Linked DNA regions of Homo sapiens: regions 1 and 2 are each linked to region 3. The links come from fine-mapping of genetic effects on gene expression. A gene starts in region 3. Each other region holds a variant in brackets. All regions are shown on one strand. Distances are between the middles of the regions.

The links. PIP is the estimated chance that this variant, and not a neighbour inherited with it, causes the effect.
Region 1: its variant is fine-mapped to the expression of IFI16 in whole blood (TOPMed, PIP 0.94).
Region 2: its variant is fine-mapped to the expression of IFI16 in whole blood (TOPMed, PIP 0.98).

Annotation. Positions count from the first base shown.
Region 1 is chr1:159,046,183-159,057,267 of GRCh38, forward strand. IFI16 (interferon gamma inducible protein 16) reads left to right here. Exons shown (of 12, transcript NM_001376587.1): 9 at 3,250-3,417; 10 at 5,497-5,916; 11 at 7,351-7,542; 12 at 8,639-8,969. The coding sequence ends at 8,719. It also overlaps a transcript of AIM2 not described here. Among named protein-coding and RNA genes, the nearest start is that of AIM2, 25 kb to the right of the region's middle. The variant C/T (reference allele first, on the strand shown) is at 4,727.
Region 2 is chr1:158,969,272-158,980,356 of GRCh38, forward strand. It overlaps PYHIN1 (pyrin and HIN domain family member 1), which reads left to right. Exons shown (of 9, transcript NM_152501.5): 8 at 4,376-4,500; 9 at 7,430-7,788. The coding sequence ends at 4,495. Among named protein-coding and RNA genes, the nearest start is that of PYDC5, 28 kb to the right of the region's middle. The variant A/G (reference allele first, on the strand shown) is at 4,760.
Region 3 is chr1:159,006,313-159,017,283 of GRCh38, forward strand. It overlaps IFI16 (interferon gamma inducible protein 16), which reads left to right and starts at 3,595. Exons shown (of 12, transcript NM_001376587.1): 1 at 3,595-3,849; 2 at 8,349-8,633; 3 at 9,560-9,675; 4 at 10,221-10,388. The coding sequence starts at 8,369. It overlaps LOC124904432 (a long non-coding RNA gene), which reads right to left and starts at 7,738. Exons shown (of 2, transcript XR_007066671.1): 1 at 7,255-7,738; 2 at 6,195-7,168. RefSeq lists enhancers at 1-124, 3,452-3,531, 8,705-9,904 and a silencer at 6,304-6,413.

The DNA of each region.
Region 1 (11,085 bases), 40 kb after region 3:
CAATGAACATAGTAAGAACAAATGTCTCTCAGATCTTCTTTCATTACCCTCAGAGTAGCTTTATAATTATTTCCTTAGGTCCTGTGCACCTTGTGTCAGGGTACTAATGTCATGGCTATTGTAAGGTGATTTGATACTGATTAACTTCATTGGGAACGGGTTTCCTAATGTTATGGAAAATTGGCCACATTGATGAGTTTTGTGTGTGATATGCGTTATTCCTGGTTTTGATTTGAAAACCAGAAGGATAACATTTTTATATTTGATATCTTCTACCATGTCTCCCTTTAAATAAACAACATACAATGATTTGAGATATGAACAGGAATAATTGCTATTTTTTCCTGAATAACAATTCCACCAGTATTATTATTACCAATATGTTCATCCTCTACATTCCAGTTTCTTTGCAATCCTTTCTCTTTTGCTCTCTCACCATACATCAGAGGTTAGTTTCACTATCCATGCTCTTAACCACATCAAGGGTTTTGATACTTCCTTTGATATCAAATTTTTCCATCTCAATTCTGTCCCCAAATAAGTTCAACCACGAGGTACCAGTCTCATCTATTCCTTGAGCAAGTTCTCACTAATACCCTCCTCCCAGAATAGATCATATTTTCTCATTGTTTGCCTTCATAGGTACCTTTCTATTTCTTTAGAGCATTTATCATAGCTATAATAAACCTATGACTTTCTTCCCTACTCAGCAATAAATGTAGGTTATAGATACCCTTTCCTAGGAGAAGATAACACAGAGGTGGGAAAGTGAATTTACACTTGTGTGTTATCAACCCTTATCCCAGCTTGCCTTTTGTTCTGCCCTGATACCTCTGTATGACCTACAATCCAGCGCTATGGGGCCTACACCCAAGACGAATGGGCAGGGAAGGTATGGGCAGGGAAATACTGACCCACGGCAACTTGAGGGATAGGGAACACTAAGATTTACATTACTATTCTCCAATGTTGTTTCTCACCCAAGCCCCAAGCTACCCCCGGCCCAGGTTGCGGACCCGAGCACCATCCACACACGTCAGTTGAGAACAGGCTTTCTACATACAGGTTTTCTCAATTTTTTAGACAGTCTTTTTTTTTAGTTATTAATTTCAAGATTTCATATTTCCCCCTATATAGTCTTTCCTGGTTCTTCTTGGGCAGAACTAGCTGCTTGTAACTGTTGCCATCTTGGGACTTACCATCAAGGCCACAGGTAGAGCCCATGTGTAGTCATGAAAATCTCAGGCCCACTGTCTCTCTGTTACTGTAATGACATACATAGACATCATAAGACAACTACTCTGTCCATGCATACTGGCTTGGAAGTGACACTTTCTAAGACCTTGCCTGCCTAAATATGCAGCACAATCATTTCTACTTGCATAGGAATCATTCTGCTGCTCTGAAAGCTCAGGATCCAAGGCAGACTCATCCACCTAAACATACACCACGTAGTCATTTCTTCTCTGGGATCCAGCCATCTTCACAGGAGGCCTGCAAAAATGGTGTCTGACCAATCAGTCTGTGATTCGCAACGTAAGCCGGGAATCCTTGCTCTTATACATCACAGCTTCTCCCAAGTAGTTTTTCTATAATAGAGTTCTTTCTGACTTTAATTCAAAGCCGGAAACAGACTATTACCTTTGATTTATGCTGTTACGTATCCTGAAGTGAACAGTACACAAGGGCATAATTCATGAACAGGGTAGGGTGGAGGAGGATTTATTCTGAGGGAAAACAAATGCTTGCACTTTTAAAATATTATTCAAACAAAGATTATAATTTCATCATCCAAACTGGGCTACTGTGATGACAGTTTAAGATTTCACTTATTTTTAAAACATTATATCTCAAGACAATCTTGTCAATAAAATTACATTGCTACACATGGCAGATCTGAAGAGAGGGGCTTCTCTCCTATTATGCTTCCTATATTACCTCCATACAAGATTTCCATCAGCAAGGGCATCATAAAGCATGAAATAGCTGTTCATCAGAGCAGACACGCAAACCCCTAATAGATCGTGGAAAAATAATAGCAACAAAGATTTATTTATTGAGCATTTACTGAGCTCTGGACTCTAAAACCCATTCTTTGTGCACATTACCTAATTTATTCTTTATAACACCATACAAAAATGCTATGGCTAGTCCCACTTCACATGTGAGAAAACTGAGATGCAAAGAAATCTTCCTCAGGGTCACACAAATAGTATTAGAGTCAGGATTCAAATGCAGCCTTATTGAACTTAAAATGTTAACATTTAAAATGTGAACCTTTAATGAGCATAGACTGAATCCACAGTAGGTGTGCAAATGTTAAACAATTTTGAAAATACAGTGTTTTGTTTGGGGTTTATTTCCATAGTCCAGGTGCTCAGTGGTGGTCAGAGACTGTTCTAATCAAGAAGCTGTTCTCCATGTGAGCTCACTACAAGCAGTTCTTTTGTGTACCTCTCTATCAACAATTGCCACTTAAAAAATTAGGTTACTGAATGGCAAAACTGCTAAAATAATGTGCCACATTGGCCAAATAGGGTGAATATTTTTTGGACTTCCATTAGTTTAATTAAAGGTAGTCAAGGTATGTGATTTTAGAGATATTCTCCAGTCTTACTTGAAAAATGTATAAAAATATAGCTAATGGGAATGCTTTAGGTGGAATATTAAATTGTTCTGAATACAGCTAAAAACCCTGAAAGATTCTGATAGCCTGATCCACACTGTAGTGATCATAGAACCTTCCCTGAGGAATTGTGAATTTGAGAGAATCTTCCTGTTATGGCTACGATCAGAGATCCCTAAAGGATGGAGATCTGGGTTTCTTGTATGCTGAAGAGCACTTGAGAGAGACTGGTTTGTGTATCTAATTGATGAGAAAGGCCTAGTTAATAAATGTCCATAAATGTAGCCAACTTTATTGCAAGCCATGCTGCCCCCAAAATAGCCCTAAGAGTTGTACCTGACCAAATAACTCAGTCCAGTTTTACAGGATGTGAAGACTGAGTATTCCATCCCCAGACAATGCAATTTCAGTTATCTGAGTTTTTAATCCTGACTGGGATGAGAGAAGGCTGAGTGATAGAAGTATCTGAATATGTGGTATTATTCCTCCTGCAACTCAGGGAAAAACAGAGAAACTGGCAAAGTGAACATCCTATTTAAAAAAGAAAAAAGGAAAAGATGTGTTTCATCTGATCTTGAAAAACATTAACTAGAAAAAAAGAACAAACATCTATTTTCCTTTAGAAAAGTGAAGACACAATCTCCAAAATGAATGACTTCATGAGGATGCAGATACTGAAGGAAGGGAGTCATTTTCCAGGACCGTTCATGACCAGCATAGGCCCAGCTGAGAGCCATCCCCACACTCCTCAGATGCCTCCATCAACACCAAGCAGCAGTTTCTTAACCACGGTACAAGTTCCCTCTTCCCAATACATTCCCCTCGCTACTATATAATGACAAGGATTAACACAACCGTGAAAGCACCTCACCAATCCCCTACTACATACAATGCTTTAATTTAACCAAATCAGTCATTTATTTATCAAGTGTGTATTTTGAGGTCCTATCCAAAATTAAAATTCTGTTTTTATCATCTCTATTCCATAACAGGTATAATTAGATGTTTGTTTAATTTTATTTTTCTTTTGGCTTACGTTTTTGTTTTTCCCTCAATACATCATGAAAATCATACCTTAAAGTAGAACAAGGTGGGAAAAAACAGAGCCACCCATAACACTATCACTGATTTTTCCCCTTTCATTTATTATAACTCAAACAATATGTTTAAAAATTTAGGAAAGGAAGGTACATAAGCAAAAATAACTTTTAACTGTCAGAAATCTCTATCTAATGCCACATTTCAGTACATGGTCTTTCTGATTTTATACCTTTCAGTATGTATATACAAAGAGTCTTATTTTCTCTCAGAGTAAATCACATTCACATATTTTTCCATAACCCATGTTTTTTATTAATATATCGTGAACTGCCATGCAATCATACAATATAGATTTAAATTATTTTATTGTACTAGAAAAATTGCACAGTTATTCCATACATTATAAAAATGATCATTTTTTATTTGGCTTTATGTTGTTTCCAGTATTCTGTGTATTTACAACGAACATAATAAGATCACATGTCTCTCAGATCTTCTTTCATTGCCCTCAGAGTAGCTTTATAATTATTTCCTTAGGTTCTGTGCACCTTGTGTCAGGGTACTGATGTCATGGCTATTGTGAGGTGATTTGATACTGATTAACTTCATTGGGAATGGGTTTCCTAATGTTATGGAAAATTGGCCACATTGATGAGTTCATTAGAGTTAAGTCCATCAGAGTTAAAGCCATCACTCACAGGTGGCCAATATCATCTTCCAGGTCAGATCACATTGCTGGTCTGTGGAGGCAGCCGTCCTGCCTCCATGTTCTGGTCTCTAAGACTCCCTTGATCCCTTCTTGCCTCCATACCTCCTCTTCCAGATCAGCAGCCCCTCCAAGTCAAAGTGCTCTCCTACAACTCAGAAACAGTGCAGGCCACTGTGGAGACAGGAGGTTAAAGAAAAGTCCCCTCCCGCCTAATTTTTCACGTCCATGACTCTTTTTAGTTCCTGCCATTATTCAGATTGGAGAGCCTCTAACCTGGGCCCCTTCAGATTAGGAAAGTTTGTGGAGTCTTCCAGTGGCTGCCTTAATGATGTTTTTGCAACATAGTGCTG[C/T]TTCATTAGAAAGGGCTTTGCAATTTGGTTCTTTAAAATGCCCCTATCTACTAGAATGAGTTCCAACTGAAATCTCATGAAATCTAAGGTTTGTGGTTGAGACTATTCCTTACTCTGAATGCTAGTAATATGATTTTTTTCTCTATTTTTATTTTATTTGGTCACTGTCATATTAGGCAGGAGGGAACTTTTCTTTAACCTCCTCTCTCCACAGTGGCCTGCACTATTTCTGAGTTGTAGGAGAGCACTTTGAATTGGAGGGGCTGCTGATCTGGAAGAGGAAGTATGGAGGCAAGAAGGGATCAAGGGAGTCCTAGAGACCAGAACATGGAGGCAGGACAGCTGCCTCCACGGACCAGCAGTGCTCAATATGACCTGACCTGGGTAGAAAGGAGTAAAACTGAGATTCTTCTAAAATCTCATCTCTTTTGGGAGTCACTTCATGGCAGCTTTGCCTTTACCCTCTGCTTCCCCATACCTCTTGATAGGGGATATGCCTTTTCTTTATGGGTTAATTCTCATTAAAAAAGAAATATTCTTCCTTCCACTCTCATAAAACAATGAAGATAATAAAATTACTCCTTACATCTTTTTCATTTCTTCCGTTACCTAAATCATACTATCTCAGTGATCTTTGTCTAGTTTTCCCTACTTTACCCAGTTAAGGTGATACTTGAGGACCAACACTGAGGCTGAGATGACTCTCACTAGAGAATGACCCTGTTTTTCCTGTTTTAATTGTGCCTATGTTTTGGTCTCTACCTTCTAAGTTGAAACCAAGACTGAAGACTGAACCTGAAGAAGTTTCCATAGAAGACAGTGCCCAGAGTGACCTCAAAGAAGTGATGGTGCTGAACGCAACAGAATCATTTGTATATGAGCCCAAAGAGCAGAAGAAAATGTTTCATGCCACAGTGGCAACTGAGAATGAAGTCTTCCGAGTGAAGGTTTTTAATATTGACCTAAAGGAGAAGTTCACCCCAAAGAAGATCATTGCCATAGCAAATTATGTTTGCCGCAATGGGTTCCTGGAGGTATATCCTTTCACACTTGTGGCTGATGTGAATGCTGACCGAAACATGGAGATCCCAAAAGGATTGATTAGAAGTGCCAGCGTAACTCCTAAAATCAATCAGCTTTGCTCACAAACTAAAGGAAGTTTTGTGAATGGGGTGTTTGAGGTACATAAGGTAAGCCCACACCATTGTTTTATAAAATTTCTCCTGCAACCTCCAATTTTTAAAGTCTTAACTTGTCAACTGGAGTTTGGTCAACTTACTCAACACAGAAAATCAACCCCTTCACCCTTCCCCCAGCACTAGAGATAATTGAATAGAGTTCATTTCAGGATATGGGGTACGTTATATTGTAACATTCCTCTTCTTAAGGTATCATCATGCAAGTTATTTAGACAGTCACTAGGAAACTTGGCATTTTATTAGTTTTGATGATCTATTCAGAGCCACCCTTGTCCAGGACAGTGCAGAGTTTATATCAACACACATATCCTTAGGATTTTGTTTCTTTGAGTTCTTCTCCATCTGTATCAATGACAACTTAATTTAATTGTGAATAAAAGAGTTGCTCTCCCAAGCCTGAATCCTGATTGTGACAACCAGAGTAAGAAATAAAATAGACTACTCTGCTTTAGAATGCAGCTATGTCTAACAGTTAGCTAGAATTCTGATCATTTGGACTCCAAAGTTTCTTGCCTCTTCTCATTCATTAATTCATCAGGAGACTGTAGAGCAACTAACTTCTGCATTAAATAATAAGAGAAATACGAAGCAAAAAGACTAAAAAAGTCACGTAGCTTAACTGCTCAATTTATAAATGGGGCAATAAAATGCAAAAAAAAGAAAAAAAGCTTGGTGAATTCTTAGGCTTACAGTGTGCCTTTCAGTCTCTACACATCATGTAAATATTATGCTTAGCTGATTTAACTTCTTGTTTGAAGTACTGTTTCATACTCCATTATACATGTCTTCTAGGGTGGCTTACTTTTAATTGTGCTGTTTTCTCTACACTCAGTTTAAATGACTGTACATATATATGTGGTTGTAGAGTTAATGAATAATGAGCTACAAACCAGAACAATGTGACTAGATAGATAGGATGATCTAGATTTGAGATCTGGGCAGATTGGGAAAGAGTGACTATATGGAGAAGAAAGAAGTAGTTACATATTGAAATAACAGTCTACTTAATGAGGACGTGCAACATTCTTTCTCAAACTTACAAAGTGCCATAAAAAGCCTCTATTCTCTGCTCTTGGGCAGGTGTGAAAGAAACCTACCAAATTAATCAGATTTTTCTGTATCCAGGCTCCTTAAAAAATCCCAGCTGTGCTGATGTGGAAACAGGAAGAATTAGGAAAGTAATCAATTTTTTTTCCTAGAAAAAATCCAGCAGACAAAGAACTTCAACAAAAGAGGCTCAAGGGAGGAGTTGAAAGGCAGGATTCAAAGACCAAGTATCTTAAGCTATTTGGTACCTGTTATTCAGGACCTACAGCTCTGTTTACTCTATCAAAGACAAAAGTTTCCAGAAACACCCTGTATTTCTCATAGATTTGAAAATTATTGATCCAGTTTCAGAAGATAAGTGTTAATTTTCTTTTGCAGAAAAATGTAAGGGGTGAATTCACTTATTATGAAATACAAGATAATACAGGGAAGATGGAAGTGGTGGTGCATGGACGACTGACCACAATCAACTGTGAGGAAGGAGATAAACTGAAACTCACCTGCTTTGAATTGGCACCGAAAAGTGGGAATACCGGGGAGTTGAGATCTGTAATTCATAGTCACATCAAGGTTGGAACTTTATAGGAACATCATTTTTCCAAGTGGCGAATCATTTTGTTTATACTTTAAGAAGACTAGACTGCTACTATTACAGAGAGTCTAGCAAGTGGAAAAGGAACAAAGCCTTGCACTTTACTGGGTGTAAACTTCCCACCATTGTTTTTAAAGAAGGATACTTGTAATCATAATAAAAAAAATTACAGAGACTTTCAAAGGCCATGATACCTAAGTTAAATAAGAAAGAATTGGTTGCTTTTACCACAATGTGGAGATAATTTAATAAGAATTTGGGTTTGGTTAAGGCACATTTGTTTCAACTAGCTGGTTCTGTGACTTTCTAGTTGACTAAAGACTTACACTAGGAATCTCAGGTTCATCATTTGTGAAATGGGAGAAATACTGTCTACCATAGAGGGTCATCAACTTAGCTCACAGCAGCCCTGAATTACCAAGAATGCATCTGAGCAAATCAGATCACAAAGGTACCTGCCTTTAGTGAGATACATACACTGGTTTACATCAGACAGAGGTAGCTGGGTCTACATAACAAAGTCCATGCTTTTTGCCACACTGACCCATACATTCATGTGGGATTCTTGGAACACTAACAAAGGCTAATATTAGAAGGCAAATAGTTCAAAACAAAGGCTGACATATTCAGGCACACACATGCTCTCAGATTGCTCCAGTTCTCAGGACCAGCAGTCAAACATTTCAAACCTTCTTTGATAGCAATTGCACCAGGAATACCTTTTGTACTCTCCCCCTTCCTTCTGCCCAATGAAAACCCTCTCCTCAACTCTTGTCATTGGGTGCACCAGCTCCTTTCTCTCTCCTGTTGTTCCCTGACATCTCCTGCTCTTTCACTTGCACTCATGCTGAGTAGGAGTGAATATCTCATTTCACGGTCCAAATTAAACAGAGAGGCATGACTCAAAGGTCAAGAATTTATTAAGGGAGATAGATGAGAGCGAGAAAAGAATCATTTAGAAAGGAATAGGGGAAGAGATATGGTGCAGGGGGAGGAGATACAGTGTGATTGAAGGGAGAAATGTAGGATCATCAGCATCTCAACTGGTCTGTCTTTATCTCTTTCTCCTTCAAGGTCATCAAGACCAGGAAAAACAAGAAAGACATACTCAATCCTGATTCAAGTATGGAAACTTCACCAGACTTTTTCTTCTAAAATCTGGATGTCATTGACGATAATGTTTATGGAGATAAGGTCTAAGTGCCTAAAAAAATGTACATATACCTGGTTGAAATACAACACTATACATACACACCACCATATATACTAGCTGTTAATCCTATGGAATGGGGTATTGGGAGTGCTTTTTTAATTTTTCATAGTTTTTTTTTAATAAAATGGCATATTTTGCATCTACAACTTCTATAATTTGAAAAAATAAATAAACATTATCTTTTTTGTGAAAGGAATGCTTCCCCAGCAGTCTCTTTAATCCATCCATGAGTTGCTTAAAAGCAAATAGTCTGTGGTCTGCAAATCAGGGTGGGGCACACAGGCCTCAAGCAATATTTGGATTTATACTTTGGGTGTGATCTTTACCGGGTAAAGCCCTGATCAAGAATGAACAGGCTGTGTTCTGCTGAAAGAAACCAGGCTAAAGGGATAAGTAAGCGTGAAATCCAGTTTGTGGTTCAGTTGCCAAGTGCTGTGTTACTGTTTTAGCCCAGAGCAGTAGATATCTTTTCAGAATTGGTCTCCTGGAGGGGGCATAATTGGGTAATTTTTCTGCCAAATGAGGCACCTTCTGGTGATGTGCATGAAGGCACTTGTCTGTGTTAGAGGAATATCTGGGCCTGCCTGATGTGAAATATCTGGTTTTATGCATTTCCTCAAAACACCGACTGCTCTTCACGCACTTTCAAACCATATTCCCTGTTCTCGCAATCCACTATAGTGATCTGATACATTAGAAAGCTGCCCTAGGAAGAGCTGCATTAGGCAAACACTGAAGATAATTAATTTTATTCAGAATAGAATAGCAGAAAGTAAGTATCTAAAACTAAAATTTAGCTAAATTTATTGATTATATATTTGGTACCTGGTACTTGGCAATTATTTTGTGACACTTAATCTTCATATTAGTTCTAGAAGGTTGATTGTTTTCTCCTCTTTACTCACCCTATAATATGTGACAAACACGGAATAGAAAGGCAAAGTCACTTTCTTAATGACCCTTAGATGGTAAATTAGAGAGCTTGATTTAGAACCCAGGCTGCTCTTCTCGTTTGGGGTGTGTACGTTAGGAGAGGGTTGTGGGGATGTGGTGGAAGCTGTGAGGAATGGAATGGGGAAGTCTACTACTGTTGCAGGAATTTTCCTTTGTTCAGCTAAACATGGGAATCCTTATCATGGGGCCATGAAAAGTTAGGCTCGCAGACAATTTGAAGTGTGAGGAGGGCAGCGTTTATTGGGTGAAAAGGAAAAGAGGGAAACGGTCCTTCTGCAAAGCCAGACTCCCTGCTTGTGGGCTTCCCACCTGGCAGTTTGAATTTCAGGTTCCACCCAGGAAGAGGAGGGGCTGGGCTCTTCCCCACTGGAAATGGCGCAAACTTCTGTGGCTTCACCCCAGTGCACACTCCTCCCAGTGTGCAGGCTGGAGTTTCTCTGGGGACCCCTTCCCACCTGGCTGTCTCATTGCCCCCTCTAAAGAAATGCATCTAACTGCCATTAGAATAAGGATAAGGATAAGGACAAAGACCGATCTTAACTGCTTCCTGCTGACAGGGGGTGCTGTTTCGGCAAAACAGCAGTCAAAGTCCCTCAGAGGCCTATTTAAGGGTTCCCAGCAGAATGGGCCATTGTCCGCCTCTCCAGTTGCATGACTGGAGTTTGATGGCCTGAAGGCAAGAAGAGACAAATTGTGTTATTAGAAAACATGTATCTAAACAAGGGGAGGGGTAAGGACAGCTCAAAAATCCTGAGGCCTTTTATCAGTTTGCACAAGGAGAGGGAGGCCAAAAGCCCAACCGGCAAAAAAAAAAAAAAAAAAAAAAAAAAAAAAACTACCCTTTAGCTGCCATGTTGGGCTTCTGGGTTCCCTTCCCCTGAGCCCAATCCTAAGCTGACCAGTTTAAGGTTTTAAACTCTTCCCAGTTTGGAGGATGCATCTGACGGGAGTGTCCCGTAGTACGGAGACACAATTGCCTATCAGTGAAGAGAGAACTGAGGGGGGAGAAAGGAAAAATGAAAGGTGTTTTTTCAAAGGAGTCCCAAAGGTTCAGGATGCTTTCAAAAGGGGTACAGATTGAAAATGAATGGTTACTCATCTAAAAAGAGGGGAGCAGGCATCCCTGGTTCCCGTCTCTTCCTAGCAGATACCCATGGTACATGAGGGAGAGAAGGAAGAGCATCCTCTTTCCCTCTTCCATCCTCACATCCCCAAGTCCCAGCAACCTTGGCAGTCAGCACCATGGGTGGTAAAGCGGCTTGTACCCATGAAGCAGGGGAGCCTAGGGGATACCCATGTATGCCCTATTCTCCCCTGCTGTCAATAGCCTTGATTCCCTAGACCTAATTTATGA
Region 2 (11,085 bases), 37 kb before region 3:
TAACTGTGACTCACTATTTCGTTCTTTCTCTTTCACTGCCATGTTAAGGCCTATGAATCAGATGCCTATATCTTCAGTAAATGGGCAGGCAACTTGAAGCTAAGGTAAAAGGAAAACTGAGTCACTATCTTCCAATCTAGTATCTTACCCATTACCATATTGCACTCTGACCAACCTTCTTTCTGCATCACTAATACATGTGTACCAGTTGAAGACAGGACTCCTATGTAAGGAGTTCTCATTTTTACATTTTGTTTTGTTGCTGCTTTTGTTCTTTTTGACTGGTGAATTCCAATAATTCATATTTCTCTGTACACTTTCTAAAATTACTATTTGTGGATAGTGCTATCAATCTAACCTATTTGCCATCTTACTTCAGGTGGTTAGATGGAGCCCATTCCTGGTCATTATCAGCTCTGATCCATTTACTCTCTGCTACTTCAAAGACAAACATTTAAAGACAATCCATTTTCTGACGCATAATGGCTTAGACAAAATGGAGTGACAGTTTCTAAGTTCTTTTGTCTAAATATGTAATACAGCCATTTCTACATTCATAGGAATTATTCTGCTGTACATAAACTCCCTTAATACAATAATTTTAGAAAGAGGCATGTATCTCCATGGCCACCTACACCTAAATGTATCATGGACCTTTTCTGCTTTGGTGACCCACTCCAAGGTTGTCTCACCACTCAATCTATGATTCACCAGGTGAGCAGGAAAGCCTTGCCCATTTACTCATCAAGGGTTCACTCAAAAATTTGTGTATGATATAGGTTCATTATGCTTTGGGATCTAAACCCCGAAGAAGACAGAAGCATGACCATCTGTCATGACTCATCTAAAGCATAGATCACAGAATGGCATGAGTCATGATCAGGGATGCTATTAGGGAGAAATTACTATGAGGAAAATAATCAGCAATGATTTAAATTAATATTCAACCAAAGCTAAGATCTTAGGCATCCAAATTCTGCTTCTGTAATGAAAATGTTTTTGTTTATATTTTATTATGTATATTTGTTAATGATTTAGGGGGTACAAGTGCAGATTTGTTACATGGTTAAATTGCGCAGTGGTGAAGTTGGGACTTTTAGTGTATCCATCACCTGAATAGTGTATGTTGTACCCATTAGATAATCTCTCATCCCTCACCCTACTCCCACACTTCCACCTTTCTGAGTCTCCAATGTCTATTATCACATCCCCTCTACGTCCAATATCACTTCTTGGCCTTTCCACTAAGATAACTGTAATATCTGATCTTATCAGTTTTGACTTATTTTGAAGAGATACTTGTTCAATTCACTTTTATCAATGAGATTAGACTACTAGCTTTGGTAGAAGGGAATAGAGACTAGCTTATTTAATATTTTACCCATACCTCCTCAATGAGATTTTCTACAACTGGGTCAACATAAAGCATAAAATATCTGTGAATAGAGCAAACACACAAACACTGCATATACTATAACAATGAAAATAATAATGATATTTCTTCTTATTGAGCATTTACTGGATTCTGAAGTAAAGCTGTGTTTATTATAAAATGTATAGCATATATTCTTTATTGCATATCCATGAAGATACAACCTATATCTCATTTCACATATGAGAATCATGAGGTTCAGAGAAGTTAGAAATCTCTCCCAAGCTAATAAAGATAATTAGTATTAGTTGAAAGATTCATATTCAACTTAGTCAACTAAAAAGTTTTTGTAGTTGAGGGAGTATGTTTCTTCCAGTGAGAGAGAGTAGATATTAAAATATCTGTAATATATCAATAAGCATTTCAAATAGTGTTGAATTTTACATTTGTTTTTATAATCCAGACTCTTCAAGCTTCTAAAACAGGATGAGGTGCACAAGATGGCTAGGGTTTGTTGTCCTCACTTGGAAACCCTCATAAGCAAACTGATCTTTCAGCACTTTCCTTCCATCTCCTTAAGGACAAAAGAAAAATATTATGGAAATCTACAAATAGAAATGAATGAGAGTGATTTGATATTGGAAGTAGAATGTCCTTAATTATTTTCCTTAGTAAAGAGAGTGATTTGATATTGGAAGTAGAACGTCCTTAAGTGCTTTCCTTAGTGCTTAGAGAGAATCACATGTGATTTTCCAGACACCCATTATCCTTACATTAACAAGATATATATATATATATAAAGACATGTTCTGGGAATGCCCTAGTGAAATCTGAAACGGTTGTGATTGCTGTTGGGAATCCTGAAGGATTTTGGATACCTGATGCAAATCACTGGATAAACAGAATCCTGACTGGAACTGTGCTTTCAGAGAGTGCTGATAGCAAAATGAAGATCAGTATCCCCAAACAACTGACAACTGATTTTTCTGGGTCCTGAAGTGCAAACTACAGGAATCCTTTGTGTATTTGCTTGATGAAAATGGCTTTCATCCATTTGGCTAACATTGTTCTGAAACTTACTACCCTTATAACTTAGGAGCATTACTTAACAAAAATAACTCCAGCAGAGGTGCTTGACCAAGTTAGCCTAGATGAGTTTTCACCAGAAACAGAGCCAGGACCCAATCACACACCTACAGAATTTCAGTCAATAAAACGAAGGCCAAAATGCCATTTGTGAATGTGCAGGTGAAGAGGTTAGGATATCTAAAGTTATGCTGCTAGCCAGAGAAAATGCAAGAAGGAAGACAATGTAAAAAGAATAAAAGAAAAAAATAAATTAAAAAATCAAACCAGATAGATGATGATATAGATACGTATAGATATAGAGGCAGATACATAATCAGGCTTCATCTCATAGTGAAACCATTAATCAGAAAAGTCGATCTTTTCTTCAGAACACAGATGCCAGAATCACCCAAACATATGACTCCAATAAGATAGTATCCTTTCAAAGTGTATAGTCTGCATAGGTAAAATTCAGTCATCGGAGAACCTCCAACTCTGAACCATCCTCAGATGTCACAGAAAATGTCACAAACCCCATCTGGTAGTTCTTTAACCAAAGTACCAACTTCTTGTTGCCATTCTTTGTGCCTCCCTTTATTATACTTAAAGGGATAATCAGTATCTTGACAGAGCTTTTCAATCAATCTCTGACTAAATAGTTTTTTATTTTACTATATTTCTCATTCATTTATTAAGTATATAATCAGAGATGCTACTAGATTCTAGGATTTTTATGATTTACAAGGGATACATTGATAAAATCATTCCTGACCTAAAGACATTATTGTGATTTATGATCCAGATATAGAGAAAGAGTGGAGGAGAGTACACAAAGATGAAGAAATACAAGAGTGTGTTCCTCTCTTACATTTCATTGTTCATTCACAGATTTCCCTTTTGCTTCAGAACCATAACTCACAGTTTATTTTCAACATTCTTACTCTTTCCTACATGTTTTTGTTTCATACATGGTACTCCCTTTGTCTGGAATCTTTTTCTCCTATTCCTTCACTGGCCTTTATATATTTTTGGGCCAGCCTAAAACTGTCTTCAAGCAAGACCTCCTGATAACCCCATCCAAAAATAAGACAGATCATCTCTTTGTGTCCTTCACATGTCCATTTATTTCCTTTATAATACTTGTCACCACAGTAATTATAGTATATTTTCAACCCTGTAAGTAATTGAGATTATATATGCTACCTGCTCAGGTAAGTAAAAACAAAGGTCCATGAATGAGTTTATATCTGTGTGTATGAAATCCTATTCCATGCTGCCTTTTACTTACCAGTAAGTTGGACTGTGTAGTCACCTGCCTCTGTGCCACAGCACCCTCTATCAGCAGTGAACAAGAAGTCAACTTAGAGAAAGAAAAGGGGAGTATTAAGTCTTTATTCTCTCATCTAGTTTTTCACCCAGGCCCCAAGATCCACACTGACCCAGCCTACAGCCTCAGTGACTCCCCCACACCTATGAGTTGAAGACAGACTTATTCTTTACAGGAGTTTGCTATATGTGACTGGATTTTTCTTTATTATTTTGTTATTGTTACCCAAAGTTCATATTTTCCTGAAGAGTGTCTACAGATTTTATCTGGTGGATCAGTAAGCAGGCAGTCATCTTGGCAGAAGTGGCCTCAAATAGACCCCATGCCTAATCATTTCCAGCTCAGATCCATTTTCTCTTATACTATATGCTAGTTTCTGTGTATGCTGAAATGTGGGTTAAGAAAACTAAATGTATGCCAGCATCCAGAGAGATTAGCAGAGGGAAGATTCTATAAAAAGGGATTTTCACACACACACACACACACACACACACACACATATACACACATGTATTACATCCAACTTATATAGGAAAATATTAAGCAGAAAAAACCAGTTCTTTCTGTCATAAAGTGAAAGACTAAATTACCCAAATTTATGACTCCAGAAGGATGAAACCCACCCAGGAGCACAGTCATCGCCTGCAAACTTTAGAATCACCTCACCAACTGTGGCCCCTCCTCTTTCTTCTGACACTTCCACCAACCGCCATCCAGCAGTTCCTTAAATAAGGTACCACCTTTCTATTTGCATTGCTGTACCTCTAAAATATAATTGTAGGGGTAATCAGAGTCTTCAAAGGGATTCTCATTTAAATTCTGACTATATATTATTTCATTATTTTACTACATTTCTCATTCATTTATCAATATATAATTGGACATGCCACTGGATTCTAAGTCCTTCAATACTCACAAAATATGCATTCATGAAATCATTTCTGTCTTCAGGAAGATTACTGTTTTTCATTGGTGCAAATATGGTGTATGTG[A/G]GGAGGTATCCAGACAAGGAGAGATGAATACAACAGTATGTTCGTACCTTCTATTCCAGTTTCCTTTCACAATTTTCCACTACGACTAATGACCATAACTTAGGATTGATATTCAAAATCCCTGTTTCTTTCCATAGCTAGTGTCTTGGCATATGCTACTTCCTTTTTTTAGAATCCCTTACTCTCATCTCTTCATTTGCCCCAATATATTTCTGGGCCAACCAAAATCCCCCTTCCTCAGAAAAATACTGCACTGATATTCTCCTCCTGCCATAGAACACATCATGCCAAGGTGTCCTGAACATTTCTCTTTATTTTATTTAGAACATTTATTAAAATTCTAATAATAAAGTGTTTTTCAACCACACTTGATAATAAGTACAGTTTATAGATTTCTTGTCCAGAGAACATCAGACAAAGGTGAACTAATGAATTTATATCTAAGTGTTCCAATTGAATCCCAGCCTGCTTTTGGTCATGATATGACCAGTGGAGTCACCTCCACCTAGGGAACAGAAGACTATGATCTACAGTGAGAGGGAAGGTGATGAAAGAGAAAGGCAAGAGGAGAATCATGTCACCACTCTTTTAGTTGAAGACATGTCACCATACAGACTAGTTGAAGACAGATTACCTATATACAGGAGTTCTCAATTTGTGGTCGTTTTTTGGTTTGTTTATGTTTTTGTTGTTTTTGATAAGCCCGAGAATCACATTTTCCTCAATAAATTATATGTAATTTATTTGAGAGTCAAAGCTAGCACGTCCTCTTTAGCCATCTTGGCTTAGGTGACCATGGATGGAACGCATATGTAGTCATTACCAGCTCAGACCCACTTTTCTGTTACTTAATAGACATAATTGAACATCCCAGGACAACATTCTGGAAAAGAACTTATTTTTCCTGCATTTTGGCTTTGAAGGGACTACGCAAAGTTTGCCTAGGTTCTACCATTTTAAATACGCATTATGGTCTGTTTCTATAGCCGTTAGATTTATTTGACTGCATCTAAACCTCCCTTAGCCCAGGAATCTCAGCTAGGGTCCTATGTCTCCTACACCTAACCTCCCATATAGCCATTTCTTCTTTGATATCTAGCACTTCCACAGGATGCCTGGAAAATACATCCTGTTACTTCCTCTGTGATTCACTAGCTCTGAAAGAAGTCCTTGCTTTTGTATATCATAGATCATCCCAATAATACTGTGTTTGTATTAATTATTAATTTGTATAAATTTTTCTATGCTTTTGGATTTAAAGTCAAAAGCAGACCATTCTTATTTTTCATCTTTTGTCATGACTCTCCTAAATCAAAGAGCCCAGAATGGTTGGGAAAACAAATGGAGATATTACTGGCTCAGAATTACTATATGGGAAAAAACGAAGCTATTAGTTTTATTCCCAATCACTACAACTTTATCTGGGTTTTCCACAAGAGGATCAACATAAATCATAATTCATTTCTGGATCAGGCTGACATAAAAAACTTGCATAGTCTTTAAATAACAATGAAAACAATATTTTTCTAACTGAGCTTCTACTGGGTAAAGCTGGAAGTGAAAGTTATGTTTTTATGTATATGATTGCATTTACTCTTCAATACACCTCTTATGAGCACAGTAGAAAGACCATGTTCCAGGGAAAAAACGTGTTCTGCTCTAGACAAGTTAAGTTTGAGATTCCCACAGGACATCTAAGAATTATCCATCTGATATATAGAGCTTAAACTTGGGTAATTTTGGCTGGGCCTTTTACTGAATTACATCAATAGAGACATAGTTGTTAAAACAGTGGATGTGACTAAAAGTACCTAATAGAATGGAAATAATGATGTCTCTCATTTACTGAGTATGCAGAATGACTCAGACTATTCTAAGGGTTTTTCAATAATTATCTTCATTAATCCTTTATAATCCAATTGTTTCACATATTAGCTCATTCAATTATTTGTGGTACACAATGAACAGAAGAGGGAGTTAAATTTGAGGGTGGCCAACATACCTCATAACAGTCCTAAATTACCAAGGATGTCCCTAAGCAAATCAGAACACAAAGGTAGCTGTCTTTTGTGAGAAACATCTCTGTGTAGACAGAGATGGTTGGATCTACATGACAAAGTTTATGCTGTTTGTCACATATATTCATGTGGGATTCTTGGAACAAATAAAGGCTAATATTGGAATGCAAAAAGATCAGAATAAAGGCTAACACATTCAGACACACAAAAATGCAAAGGCTTTCTGATTGCTCCAGTTCTCAGGGCCATTAGTCAAAAGTCCCAAGCCTTCCTTGACAGCAGTTGCACCAGGAATACATTTTGTACGCTCCTCCTACCTTTCTGCCCAATGAGAAGTTTCCCTTTAGCCCTTGTCGTTGGACACACCAGCTCCTTTCTCTATCTTATTGTTCCCTGACATCTCCTGCCCTTTCACGTGGGCTCATGCTGGGTAGGAGTGAATATCGCATTTCATGGTCCCAACAGAGGGGGAAGATGTGACTCCAAGGACAGGATTCATTAAAGGAGATAGATGAGAATGAGAAAAGAGTGCTTCAGATGGAAATAGAAGAAGAGATGTGGCTCACAGGGAGGAGAGGCAGTGTGATTGAAGAAAGAAATGTATGACTCCCTGCATCTCAACGGGTTTATTTTTATCTCTTTATGCTTCAAGGTCACCAAGGACAAGGATATCAAATAACTACTGTTCAATCTTTACTCAAGTGTGGAAATTTTGCCTGAAGTCCTCCACCTAAAAACCTGATGCCATTGGTAATGATGTTTATGAAGATAAGATCAAAGCACAGAAAATAATATATGTATATATATCTGGTTGAAATACTATATATATATATATATATATATATATATATATATATATATATATATACCAGCTATTAATTCTAGGAAATGGAGTATTAAGGGTGCATTTTATTTCATTAGTTTTACTTTTATGCATTTTCTTCATATCATATTTTGCATTCAGAATTTTCATAATTTGAAAAAAAATAAACTTTTTTTTCTTAAAGAGTGCTTCCATAGGAGTTTCTTTAATCTATCTGTGAGTTATGTAAAAGCAAATAAACTGTGGCCTGCAAGTCAGGGTGGGGCACACAGATTTATAGTTTGGATGGGATCTTTAAGGAATAGGCCCTGGTTAAGACTGAACTGACTGTGCCCTGCCCAAAGAATCCAGACCAAGGGGCAGGTAGGGGTGAAATCCAGCCTGTGATTCTGTTGCAAGCACTGTGTCCTGGGAAGGAGTTGCTCTAGCCAAAACTAGAGATATCTTTTCAGAATTGGACTCCTGGAGGGGGAATAATTGGGTAATTTTCTTGCCAAACCAGGCACTTTCTGGTGATGTGCATGAAGGCACTTGCCTATGTTAGAGGAATTCCTGGCCCTGTTTGATGTAAATTATCTGGTTCTATACATTTCCTTCAGCACCAACAGCTCCTCAGGAGCTCTCCCACCATATTCCCTCTTCTCACATTCCACTATATGAATCCATCAGAAAGTTGCCCAGGCAGACAGTTAACTTAGGCAAACTGAAGAATAATTAATTTATTTTAGAGTAGAATGGCAGAAAGTCAGTATCTAAAACTTACAATGTATTTATGGATCATATATTTGGCACCTGGTGTAATTATTTTGTGTCATTTAATCTTCACCGTAGCTCTAGAAGGTTGACAGTTTTCTCCTTTTTACTCTCCATATATAAAGAAAAAAGGGCACAGAAAGCAAATTTACTTTCGAAGTGACACTTAGGTGGTCTTATATAGTCCTTGATTTAACATCCAGGTCTGTTGTTCTGGCTTGGGTTAGGTGTGCTAATGTTAGGAGAACAGGGATAAGATGCAAATTAAACAATGAATAAGACGGATTCCACCTAAGATGGAGAAAGCTGAAAAGAGCCTCACTCTCACCCTTAAAATTATGAAAAAGTAGATAAATGCAAAATAGCAATCTTCTGTACTCATCAGAGAACTGTGGTGATCTGAAGCTATATATGCCCAATTAATCTAAGGAAAAGAGGCATTAAAGTTCTGCCTTTATGGTTTGGACCAACAATCCAAGGAATAAATGTAGTTTTTTTTTCCTCTTGCCCTGCACCTTTCCGATTATGTCTTTTATCAGACATAAAGGTAAGAAAGTATGATAGATTCAGATACCATGAATAAGTTTTTTCAGACATTCTTTATTGCCAAATATCATTGCTAATATTCATATGTGTGTGTGTGTCTATACATATATATATATATATATATATATATGATAATTTGGTTCACTTGGGAAAATCAAATTTTGAAGGATGTTTTGAAGCCACCGAATTTTTTCCTCATGTGCAGTGAAAAAACTGAAATTCAGAGATTGAGTGAAGTGGTCAAAATCACATCATTCAGCTAGTTAGGAAACAGATTTCATCTTGAGAAGATGTCACAAACTGCTAAAACATCCTCCAAATTCAAATTTGACTTATGGACACTGAGAAAATAACTGCTTTATATGCAAATGATATTGGTATTCTGAGCTACTCAAATACATAATATTCATATTACTTTACATAAACTAGGTATAATGGACCACTCTTGAGTATGTAGATGATGGTAATTAACAGTTAGAGAATGGGTCATTTAGGTGCTTTGTCTAATGTGTTTGCTGATTTCTCCCTGAAATTTTAACTTCTAAGGACAGTCATGTCTGTAAATGAGATAGGAAAGAAATTATCTTCCACCCGAAAGAATTAGCCTGTTCACTGTGTTTTAATTTAAACAGCGTCAACCTCTAATGCCTTGACCCCACTCTATCTTATATTTTTATATCTTACTACACATCAGAGCTCCTACTTGGGACCACAAGTAGGTGAGAATCTGGGGCTTCCCCTAACTTTGAAATGTGTGAACCAAAGAGAAAGACAGAACAGCTCACAGAGATCTAACCTACCCTCATAGACATCTTAGAGATCAGTTTGTACCAAGTGGTTCTCTGCAAGAGGCAGTGAAATAGCTCTGAGAGGATCTCTAGTGTATTAGCAAATGATTATGATTGGAAGAGGCAAATCCAACACTGTTAGCAACATTATTTCTCTAAAACCACATAGTGAGGCATGTATTAGAATTTTATGATGATAAGAGCACGTGAGATCAACCACTTAACAAATTTCAAGTTTACAATACAGTATTAGGAACTATAAGCACAGTGTTGTGCAGCAGATCTACAGAGCTTATTCATCTGGCATATCTGAAGTTGTATACCCATCGAATAGCAGCTTCCATTTCCCCCTTCCTCCAGCCCCAGCTAACCACCATTTTATTTTCTGCTCCTGTAAGTTTGGCTATTATAGATACTCTACATAAGTGGACTCATGCAGTATTTATTCTCTTATGAGTGGCTTATTACACTTAGCATAATGCCCTCAAGTTTTATTCATGCTGTAACTATTGCAGAATTTCATTCATGCTGTAACTATTGCAGAATTTCCTTCATTAAGAAAGAATAACATTCCATTATATATACACACCACATTTTCTTATCTATTCATTCAAAACTGGGACATTTAGGTAGTTTTCACATCTTGTCTATTTTGAATAATACTGTAATGTACATGGGAGCGCTAGTAATATCTCTTCAACTCCTATTTTAATTATTTTGCATAAATACCAAGAAGAATAAATCTTGGGTCATATGGTATTCATATTTTTTTCTTCCAACTTTTATTTTAGATTTAGGGGCTACATGTGCAGGTTTGTTACATCAATACATTACATGTTGCTGGGATTGGCATACAAATGATTTTGTCACCTAGGTAGTAAGCACAGTACCTGATAGGTAGTTTTTCAGTCTTCACCCTCCTCCCACCCTCGACCTTTAAGTAAACCACCAGTGTCTATTGTGCTTCTTTTTGTGTCCTTGTGTACTCAATGTTTAGCTCCTACTTATTAGTAAGAACAAGTGGTATTTGGTTTTCTGTTCCTGTGTTATTTTGCTTCAGATAATGCCTTGCAGCTGCATCTATGTTCCTGCAAAGGACATGATTTGTTGCAGGAAGTCAGGGACCCCAAATGGAGGGACTGGCTGGAGCCACAGCAGAGGAACATAAATTGTGAAGATTTTGTGGACATTTATCAGTTCCCAAATAATACTTTTATAATTTCTTATGCTTGTCCTTACTTAAATCTTTTAATCCTGTTATCTTCATAAGCTGAGGATGTATCTTATCTCAGGACCACTGTGATAATTGTTAACTGTACAGATTGATTGTAAAACATGTGAGTTTGAAAAATATGAAATCAGTGCATCTTGAAAAAGAACAGAATAGTAGCGATTTTT
Region 3 (10,971 bases):
AGAAGCAAAAACATGCCTTAAAAGACAAATGGTTACAAGAAGAGCAACGGTACCAGGTGCAAGGTTGTAAATCTTTCATTGTAATTAGATATAGGGTCTATGCCGGACACGAACTCAAGGTTTTATGTTGTTATCTTTTTGAGAAAAAGCCTGGGAACTTCATACATTGTTGGTGTTACTACCTTATCAGTTAATTGGGCTCTTTTGAAACGCTGAGGATCTGTTTACCCAGGCCAACTCCTTACTAAAGGGGGTTGGGTAAGGAGCCCTTAGTGTCTTGTAAATTAAGGGGTCAATTGGAGTTTGTCCGACCTTCCCAGCTAGAGAGAGTCTTATTTACATGAGAAGCAAGGCTGGGTGATTAAAGAGACAAGCAGGACAAAATTCAAAGTAACGAGTTAGAGTAAAAACAAGGTTAGGCATTTCAATATAGGGTGGTTCTTAGTCCAGCAGGGCGTTTTCCCGATAACCACCTGTTTAACTACATTCACCCTTGGTGCAAGTGCCAAAAAACAAACAAACAAACAAAAAGACCAAGGCGATAGGTATTTGCACCATAAACTTCTCCCATCTTTTATGTCCGTAATTTTGTGTTATTTCGCATTTCTGACTGTTTATAGAATTGAATTGGCCTTTACCTTATCATATAATAATATACTTTAATTTTAATCACAAATACATATGTTAAGTAGAACACAATCTAGGAAATACAAGATAATACAGAGAAAAATGGAAGTATTGGGGAAAAGGAAACAGCACAAAACCAAGTGTGACGAAAAAGATAAACTTTGACTTCTAATTTCAACTGAGAATCAATGGACAAAACATCAAAGCCATTATCTGAAATGCATGGTTCCATTCATGTGAGAGTTGGAGAGACAAATGTTAGTATTCCAAAAAAGAAAATAATTCGGTTTAGGCTTTGGGAAAATCAGATTCTGTGTCTTAACAGCAAAGGTCCAGCCCCAGCAGGAAGCATGAGAACCCAAACAATGCCCTTGTGCTAATATTGTTAAGTGGAGAATCTGTAAAGAAATAATGAAGAAAATGACATTCACACAAGCTTAAAAGGACATGGATGTTTTGCTAAAGAAAAAAATATGTGTAGAAATTAGTAAATCAAGGAAGTAATTTTGCTTAGCATTCAAGTGCATGGGCTTTGGAATAAGGTAGATCTGGTTTGAATTTGGCTCCAACACTAACTAGGCGCCTAGTTTTTAGAAAATAGCTTCAATTACTGCTACACACTGGATTATGTTATCTAAATTCATATGATGAAGCCATAACCTCCCAGTGTGATGATATTTGAAAACGAGGCCTTTGGTGGGTAGTTTATGAGGGTGGGGTCCTCATAATGTGATTAGCACCCTTATAAGAAGAGGTATCAGAGAGTGCTCTCTCTCTCTCTCAACACTAGGTGAGGACCCTGCATAAATATGGCTATGTGCAAGCCAGGAAGAGGGCTCATACCAGAAACTAAGTTGGCCATCCTTGATCTTGGAACCCTCAGCATCCAGAAGACCCAAATCAACTAAGATAGTAGTCTTCTCTAAAAAGGGGAAACTTTGCTGCATAGAGTTGATTTGCAAAACAAGTGAACAATGCATATGCCACAGTCTATTGCATCATGAAAAACCAGTGTGCAATAGGTCTTTTTGTTCTTAGCAAGGTAAAGACATTTGCAATACTGACAGGAGAAATGTCACCTACAAATACTCTAAAGTGTGAAGTGACATAAATGTTTCTGCACAGCTAAAACTTTGGTATATGTGGAACAGTATGGAAAATGAGGCCAGAAAGGTAAAATAGTAAGCTGCTTTTTGTCATAAAGAGAGAAATGGAACACTCATTGTTCAAAAATAGGTACATAATTGAGAGATTTTATTCAGAATAATGCCTGATTAATATAAATTTAGTCACTGTAATAATGTAGCTACATAATTTATATATATGTATATATATTCGCACATTTTTTGCTTTATCAGGAATTTTTGTATATTCTACTAATGACTTTTCTGTATGATAGCACAAATTGCAATTGTTGGCCACTGCCACAAAGTGGGGGAAAATGCACATTTTTAAGCATTTCTTTGCTTCATCTATGAAAATTTCATCTTTGTGGTATGAATTATGGAGCATTGTCCTGAGTTGCCCTTATAGGTGACCGCAGTTTGTGTGTTGTATGCTGGAGTCCCAATTGAGGACATTACTGCATATAAAATGATTATAAGTAAAAGGCAGAAAATGTTCTGAAGGGTCATAACTTCCAAGGGTTCTCTACCCTTTGACCTCTGGATTGGGGTTCCCAGTGACTGCCTTAATATCCTTCTCTACCTACTGCCTTAAGGCCAACTCAATGTATCCACGTAAAGAGTACCCTAAAGCCAGTAAAAGATTATCACGAACACCCAGAGATGTTTATGGCCATCATTCCAGATCCTCTTTGCTTTTTCTTGACTTACTCCTTTTTTGATAAAGTTATTCATATGGTTTCAAATCCAGAATTCAGCTATTCACTTCATGGCCCTAGTTTGGATTAAAACAATCAGCTTTCTTTTGCTCTGTAGATGGCCTTGGACAGTACATATTAACAGTCTATGGGGCCCCTTTTCCACTCATGACCACATCCTGCTTGCAGATCTGCTGCTGGGTTAACACCACATCATCTGCTAGTTGATGCCATTTATTTGACATCCTGGGGTTACAGCACGCTAAAGGGCACCCACTGTCCTTAACAGAGAAAAATACACTGCTGAGCAGAGGATTAAACAGACTCCTCACACTACCGGAAGTTCAGTGCATTTTCCAGGATTTTCAAGTCTTCGATGCTGTCATGTTGAGAGTCCACTATCCACGTTTGTTTATCCAGGAATAATGCAGAAAATCTGAGCATTCGTGAATCTAATCATTGAGGTAAAGTAACCTAGTCATGGTCAAGAGGACAGCTAGTGTTAAACTCCTTCATATAAATTTAAGGAAGGATTTACATATTCATAATGACTTTCTGATCTGGAAAGCCCAGGCTTGTCAGTTATTAATAATTGGATGAATACTTCAGGTAGTATTTAAACAAATAGCGATTTCATAGCAGACATTTCCCCAACCAGGAGATGCAGTAAAGTATTGGTAGCAATAGATGCTCCTACCAAGATCTCCTCCTGCCACTGCCACTCTGTGCACAGGAAAGGAGGGGAGAAGAAGCCATGTTGCTTCTCTTATATTTGAGCATCATTTAAGGGAATATAAGTCTCTAATGACTCACATGTAAGTCTGCTGGGTAAGAAAGTTCTAATGTTGGAACTCCTTTCAGCTATCGAATTTTGTAAGAAAAAAAACTTATTTGTGTTTATATACATTTATGAGATACAAGTGTAATTTCGTTACATGGATATATGCCATATTGGTGAAGTCAGAGATTTCAGTGTGCACATCACCCGAAAAATGTTAACTGTACCCATTAAAGTAATTTCTCATCCCCCATTTCCCCTCACCACATGCTCCAGCCCTTGCCAGGAAACTGTTCATTTTCTCTGACTAACAGAAACGAAAGCTAAAAACACTGGTGGGAGGAGTCTCCACATTGTTTCCTACTCCATTTTCTCTGGGGCAATAGCAGAATAGGAGCAAGCCAGCACTAGTCAGCTAACTAAGTGACTCAACCAAGGCCTTTTTTCCTTGTTATCTTTGCAGATACTTCATTTTCTTAGCGTTTCTGGAGATTACAACATCCTGCGGTTCCGTTTCTGGGAACTTTACTGATTTATCTCCCCCCTCACACAAATAAGCATTGATTCCTGCATTTCTGAAGATCTCAAGATCTGGACTACTGTTGAAAAAATTTCCAGTGAGGTGAGTACTGTTCCTGATTTTGTAAATATGATCTTGTTCCTTCCTTGAAGTCCCCAGAATCACAAGGGGACAATCAGTATTGGTTATTCAGGGTCATGGGATGATGGGAGTAGGGCTGAGTATTCAGAAAAGTGAAAACTGAGTTGCTTGATATGAATCCTTCATTTACTTAGGAAGATAACAGGCATCTTCTATTCCACCACAACTGAGGACTGAACAAGAGAAAATGCATTTTGACCGTTGCAGATTTTAAAATTAATTATCCGAGTGTATACTGGCATAAGTTGGTACTTAGAAGAGGGCTTCTGTTATTTTGGCTGGAAGAAGTGTTGGAAACTCGGTAGCTGTGGTGGGTTCTCAAGATAGTGACATGAAAAAAGTATCATGAAAGAATATTAAGTAAAAAACATATCTGAGCATAGAGATGTATTATATGACATCATCCCAATTTTACAAAACATAAGAACAAATGTACACAGAGTAGAAAATTTTTTTCAGTTTCACAAACACAGTTACTCAAGCACATGGTGTCTTAATATTTTCATAAGTATATTGATCCTTTACTTTAGCTCCATTCTGCACCGGGTGCTAGCGGCAGAATTTCAATCATTTTGGAATTACTCTCTGCCCTCCTGAAAGTTAATGATTTTTTTTTTCCTTGTGGCAAGGTATAGGGGAGTGGAGGGGAAGGCAGTTAGGAAAAGGTTACTATTGTTTACTTTTCAAATTTTTAAAAGATGTTTTCTATAGCCTGGTACAATATTTCATGTGTGCTTAAATGGAATGTGAGATTCTTAAATGTTGTTTTCAGAATTTTATTAGATAAATGTTGTTAATTACGTTGTTCAAATTTATTATATCATTACAGATTTTTTCACCTTGTTCATTTAGTAATTGAAGCATAAACTGAAATCTCCTATTATAAAGTTTGCTTTTTTGGCCGGGCACAGAGGTTCATGCCTGTAATCCCAGTACTTTGGGGGAGACCAAGGCGAGCGGATCACTTGACGTCAGGAGTTCCAGACCAGCCTGGCCAGCATGGCGAAACCCTGTCTCTATTAAAAATACAATAATTAGCCGGGTATGGTCATGTGTGCCTGTAATCCCAGCTACTCAGGAGACTGAGGCAGGAGAATCGCTTGAACCAGGAGGCAGAGGTTGCAGTGAGCCGAGACTGTGCCACTACACTCCAGCCTGGGTGACAGAGCAAGGCTCTGTCTCAAAAAAAAAAAAAAATTTTTTTTCTTTGTAGTGCTCTCACAATCACATACATGTTATGTGTATATATAATATACATTCACACACAAATATATGTATATATAATCATGTATACAAACAGGTACACACATATATGTGTGTAGTGATGTCTGTACATGTGTGTATATGAAGAGAAATATATACTAATTATAGTACCATGAAGCACTATAAAATAATAAATAATATCATTAGATAAATTAGATAAATTCATAACTAAAACATAATTTTCTAGGAGTTGAAACTTTTATCATGTGGTATCTGAAGTTACTTTTGGGCTTAAGGTATATTTAAAATTACACAAACATAGATAAACTGGCTTTCTTTAGTTATTCCTTGCAAGATAATTTTTAACAATTTTTTTCACCTTTTGTTAACAATATATATGTAGATTTCTTAAATCAAATTTGATGAAAGTTGTCACTTAACAGGTCAGACCTTTTAGGTATATGCTGGTAATTAACAATCTGCTGTCTTTACTTCAATTTATGACACTTCTATATCATCTCACTATCTAAGACAATTGCTTTAGTGAATTGTCATGTTCTTTTTCTTCCCTCCCTTTACCATGCTGTTGTAATTTCTGTTTCTCTTATATTTGATCAGGGTTTTCTTTGTAAGACATTAGGAACACCTAAAAAAGTTTATTTTTCACTCTTCTTATCTTTTGGCTGGCAGAATTTTTAATTTTATTCATGTTTTCCTATTAAATATTATTTTCAATAGATGTTTTCTTGTGGTATGAGTCTTTGTCTTGCAAAAAGACTGAGGCCCTGAGTATCACAAAATAGTTTTTGAGACTCTTCTATTTAAATATCATTTTGCCTAAATTAAAACTCTAAAATGTAAAATTATATTTTCCCTTAAGACAAGATGAAAGCACCTCTTCTGTGCTGTGGAGCTAGATACATTTTGAAGTTAAGAATCTGGAGGCTTCAGAAAGGCTATTTAGTGTATATATTCTAAATAGTGTCTTACTAGAAACTCCATTGGGATATAAATAATTACTCCAAAATCAAAAGCACTAATATTGCAAAACAAAACATGTGAGTGTTCACATTTCAGTGAAATAAAGATTATACATAGCCTACTGTCATCCCAAATCTGGTTTTATTTTGCAAATAAATTGTGCTGTCACACTTGTTGGAAACAAGTGCTCAGTGCCACAAAGAAAAACCAGCACTTAAACAGGAAATTTCTCAGCAAAGCATATTTGCTTCTACAGAAGGGTGCTGCCTGCGTCAGTCACAATGCACATTCTAAGCTGACCGGATTGGCTACTGCTTTAAATTCTATAGGGGTAATTAGGCGGGAAGGAAGACACTGTCCTGTACCAATTAGGCGGGAAGGCATGTCTGGGGCGGCAAAGGAAGGAAGGGTTGTTTACAGAACAGGAAAGAACAGGAAAGTTTGAAGACGAACTTATTGTTTCTAGCACACTCACAAAATAAGTCAAAACTTTCCATTGAAAATTTTTTTTGGTTTTGCAATTGATATGGAACTTTGGACCAACATTATATAAAAATAACTCCATTGTCCTGCTTCAGGCAGTTTTGATATAGAGATTCACTTTCAATTTGATTCTTGAATCTTTGTAGGTGATCTATTCCTCATTACCGAAGGCTTACAGAGTATTTTTGTTCATTATATTCTTCAGTTTCACTATAATGTGTTTTTGTATAGATTTTCCCTTCATTCTCTGGACCTTTTCAGTCCAAGGATCCTCATGTTCTCGTAAGAAGGAAGCTTTTTTTTTTTTTTTTTTTTTTTTTTGACGGAGTCTCACTCTGTCACCCAGGCTGGAGTGTAGTGGCACGATCTCCGCTCACTGCAACCTCCGTCTCCTGGGTTCAAGCAATTCTCCTGCCTCAGCCTCCCGAGTAGCTGGGACTGCAAGCGCTTGCCACCACACCTGGCTAATTTTTGGTATTTTTAGTGGAAACGAGGTCTCACTGTGTTAGCCAGGATGCTTTTGATCTCCGGAACTTGTGATTCGACCACCTCGGCCTCCCAACATGCTGGAATTACAGGCGTGAGCCACTGCGCCTGGCCCAATTAATAGCCCCTGAAATTTAGATATCTTGGTTATACACAAAGACATCATTCCTAAAATTAAAAAATTCATTAATTTAAAAGTTTTGGAATCCATACCTTGCACTGTCATCATGGAAGTGTACAGGTGTTAAGAGGTCAAGAGCAGTGACACTCTGTCCATAGGGAGACTCTGAAATCTACCATGAGACAAAGCCTCAGTTGAGTCTTAAGGTTGTATGGGAAGTAGTCAAAGAAAGAAATGTGGGAATGGCTTTCCAGGCAGTAAGAAGGAACTAGCAAAGTCATGAGGCATGAAGACACAAGGTGTCCGGCATCTTTGTGAAGCATAGATACAAGGAGTACAAAGGTACTAGAAGTAAAAAAGATGCAGCTTATTCAACACTTTCTGAGACAGTATAGGAAGCAAGGAATTTTGGGGAAGAAAAAGGAGAAATATTGAAGGATTTCAGTGGAATATAAATGTGGCTTATCGAGAGAAAACTGATTGTGCGAAAAGAAATAATTAGACAAATCAAGTCTGAAAGAAGAAAAATAAAACAACCAATAAAATCATTTCAGTGAATAAATACTGTGATGCTGCACTAGAAAGCATGCAGATTTTCAGCAAAGTTATGGTTTTATGGGTACAGAGAACAGAAGCCATGGTCTAGCACCAAAGAAGGGAGGATGCTAATGAAAGCCAACTAGGGAAGAGTCAAGGAGAATAGGGTCAGTGCCACAGCATGAAACTGTAGCGCTGTAGCAGAAAGTTATTCATATAAGGTGGGAGGCTGCAGCCCATTTACACCTAGGCCGCTCCAGTCATACTGGGTGTGGGAAGATTTAAGAAACAACAGGCAGGATTTGGGGAATAGGCTTCAGCCCCAGTAAAGGATAAGAAGAGGAACCAAGGGCTTTGACACTGCAGAGCTCATACTCTTAACACTGAGGCAATTGCTTGTTCTCAGACCTCCCTCTAACAACTGGACCCAACTCAACTATTCTCATTCAATGGGAATAATTTCTTAGACATTCCTAACCCAGCAGTTCTTCACTCAATTTCTACAGTAACACATTTGGTCGTTGAGTCCTTCTTTATCACACATATTCATGAACAACTCTTTCATATGGGCCACTCACTCACATAGGCATACATCTTTTAAATTGTCTGTATACATGTGTAACACTGTATATACCATTTTCTCTTGTAGGCTCACTTATGTCTGTAAAGATGGGAAAAAAATACAAGAACATTGTTCTACTAAAAGGATTAGAGGTCATCAATGATTATCATTTTAGAATGGTTAAGTCCTTACTGAGCAACGATTTAAAACTTAATTTAAAAATGAGAGAAGAGTATGACAAAATTCAGATTGCTGACTTGATGGAAGAAAAGTTCCGAGGTGATGCTGGTTTGGGCAAACTAATAAAAATTTTCGAAGATATACCAACGCTTGAAGACCTGGCTGAAACTCTTAAAAAAGAAAAGTTAAAAGGTAATTGGGAAGAGGGAACACCCACTCCCTGCAACCATCCCCAAACCCTCCCCAACATTGATTAGAGCCCCACCTCGGACATACTTGAGATGTGTTTTCCCCAGTTTGTGACTCAACAGCTGAGACAATGTTGGTACTTCAGAGGCCAACAAGTTGACAACTTAGTGCATTCCATTACTGGTGTAGATTGAAGTATTTCAGAATGTATATTTGGGATCAGTGAAAGAACAAAAGTGAGAGGGAGTTGAAGGGGGACTGAGACTTCCAGTACATTAGAAAGATTATATAATAATAAAATCATAAAAACTGTTTAAATTCAAGATATGTACATTTAGCCAATGAATGTATCTGTTCTATTGAGACCATTTAACCCATCACTACCCTTTATAATTTAAAAAAATGCAATACTTACATGTGAGCCTGCCTCTCAGAAGTGTGATCTCCTCTCTTGTTATATCAAGTTAAAAAAAAGGATTTGAAAAAGTCTAAGTCCAAAATCAGTATATCCTTCCTCATGGAAACCTTTGGCTGGTTTCTATAATTTGAATATCTTTACCTGGGGAATGTGACCTAGCAGTCTCCATCATGAAAACATTAGTTTTTAAAACAAAATGATCGGAGAACCGCATTGGGAAAGGGTTAACTGAAGCACATGGAGTTCAGAGAACAGGAAGCATGTGCTCAGTGCACAGGGGAGGAGTGAGGAAAGTGCTGAGGAGCATGAGTCAGTGCTTGTTCCTGTCTTGTGACTGCTGGTCTCCTTAAGGCCAGGCTGGGCTAATGCAGTAGAGCTAGACTAAAGCACAGCTGAACCCTCAAGCAGGAACTGAGAGCAAATTGTATTGAAACTGCTTCAGCTGTCGGAGATCGTTTATATGTCTTCCTTTTTTCTGCATTGGTTGGGAATAAAATTGAATCTATTCCAGTAAAAGGACCAGCCCTATCAAGAAAGAGGAAGAAGGAAGTGGATGCTACTTCACCTGCACCCTCCACAAGCAGCACTGTCAAAACTGAAGGAGCAGAGGCAACTCCTGGAGCTCAGGTAAGCTTCAGGAAGAGGAGCAGGCTTCAAGTCCCACAGAGGAAGCTCTGCTACGGCTCTTCCACTCAATCTCTCCAGCAGGCAGTTATTTCTTCATGTTTCCCATCAAGTTTCAGATTTACCAAATTGTATGATAATTGATCATCTTATTGATGCTCAAAGCAATGCACCAAACACATGAGTAAACATAATGTAAATATATATAACATAAATGTGATACCTTCATTCTAGTAGAGTGGAGTGTCAACGTGAGAATCAGGTAAGTACTTTGTCCATGTGTATAAAAACCTAGTTTCTCTAATCCCAAGTCAGCACATCCCATAACAGAAATAATTAGAGAAATAATGTGTATAACATTCTCCTCTTTCTTCGTTTAATGAAACCATCTATGCCCATCTCTTAAACTGGCGAGAGATGGGCAGCAACCTCTCAAGTTTCCAAGAAACATCTTCTTAGGAATAATAAAACTACTATCCAATAATGAAAATGTGCTCTACTTCATTTGGCACTGAAAACGAATAACAGGAAAATCAAACCACTTTCAGAAAAGAAAAAAATCAACCAAAGAAAAGGCTGGACCCAAAGGGAGTAAGGTGTCCGAGGAACAGACTCAGCCTCCCTCTCCTGCAGGAGCCGGCATGTCCACAGCCATGGGCCGTTCCCCATCTCCCAAGACCTCATTGTCAGCTCCACCCAACAGTTCTTCAACTGAGGTACACTCTTCCTGGTCCCATTTTGCTTTGTTTTTTTCAACCCAAAGTAAAGGACTGATTTCACCGGTTACTTAAAAATTGCATCGATAATTTGCTAGTTAATCCAATGTACATATTGAGAAACCACTACATTTTGATCTTTTGCTTTCACAGGGATACTTGATGAACTTGACATTATCTCTGACTGCAGGAAGTTTTCTGTTCTGTGTTGTTTGGGGAAGGGAGAGAGAGCTATGCAGTACAGAACTGTCAGCTGTGGGCTCACTGTCTACTGCTCCCATGTCCTTCATACCTCTTCCCTTGGTTCACTATAGTATTCCATGTCAGACCTCTCCAGCACCTGCTAGTTTGTGAATGAGGTTATCCATACCCTCAGCTCTTTTTCTTGTAGATTAAACAACCTCCCCTGCATTAAAACTGTTCTATCGCAGTTTAAGGAGACTGGGATGTTAAAGAGTAAAGATGTTAAAGAAAACCCTTTCTGAGCCCCAGGTTTCTGTTAGCATGCTACCTGCTAGAGCCCTGACACTGAGAAAGGCTATGGTGGTGGGAATGACACTCTGTAGAGTTTCTGCAGCCTGAA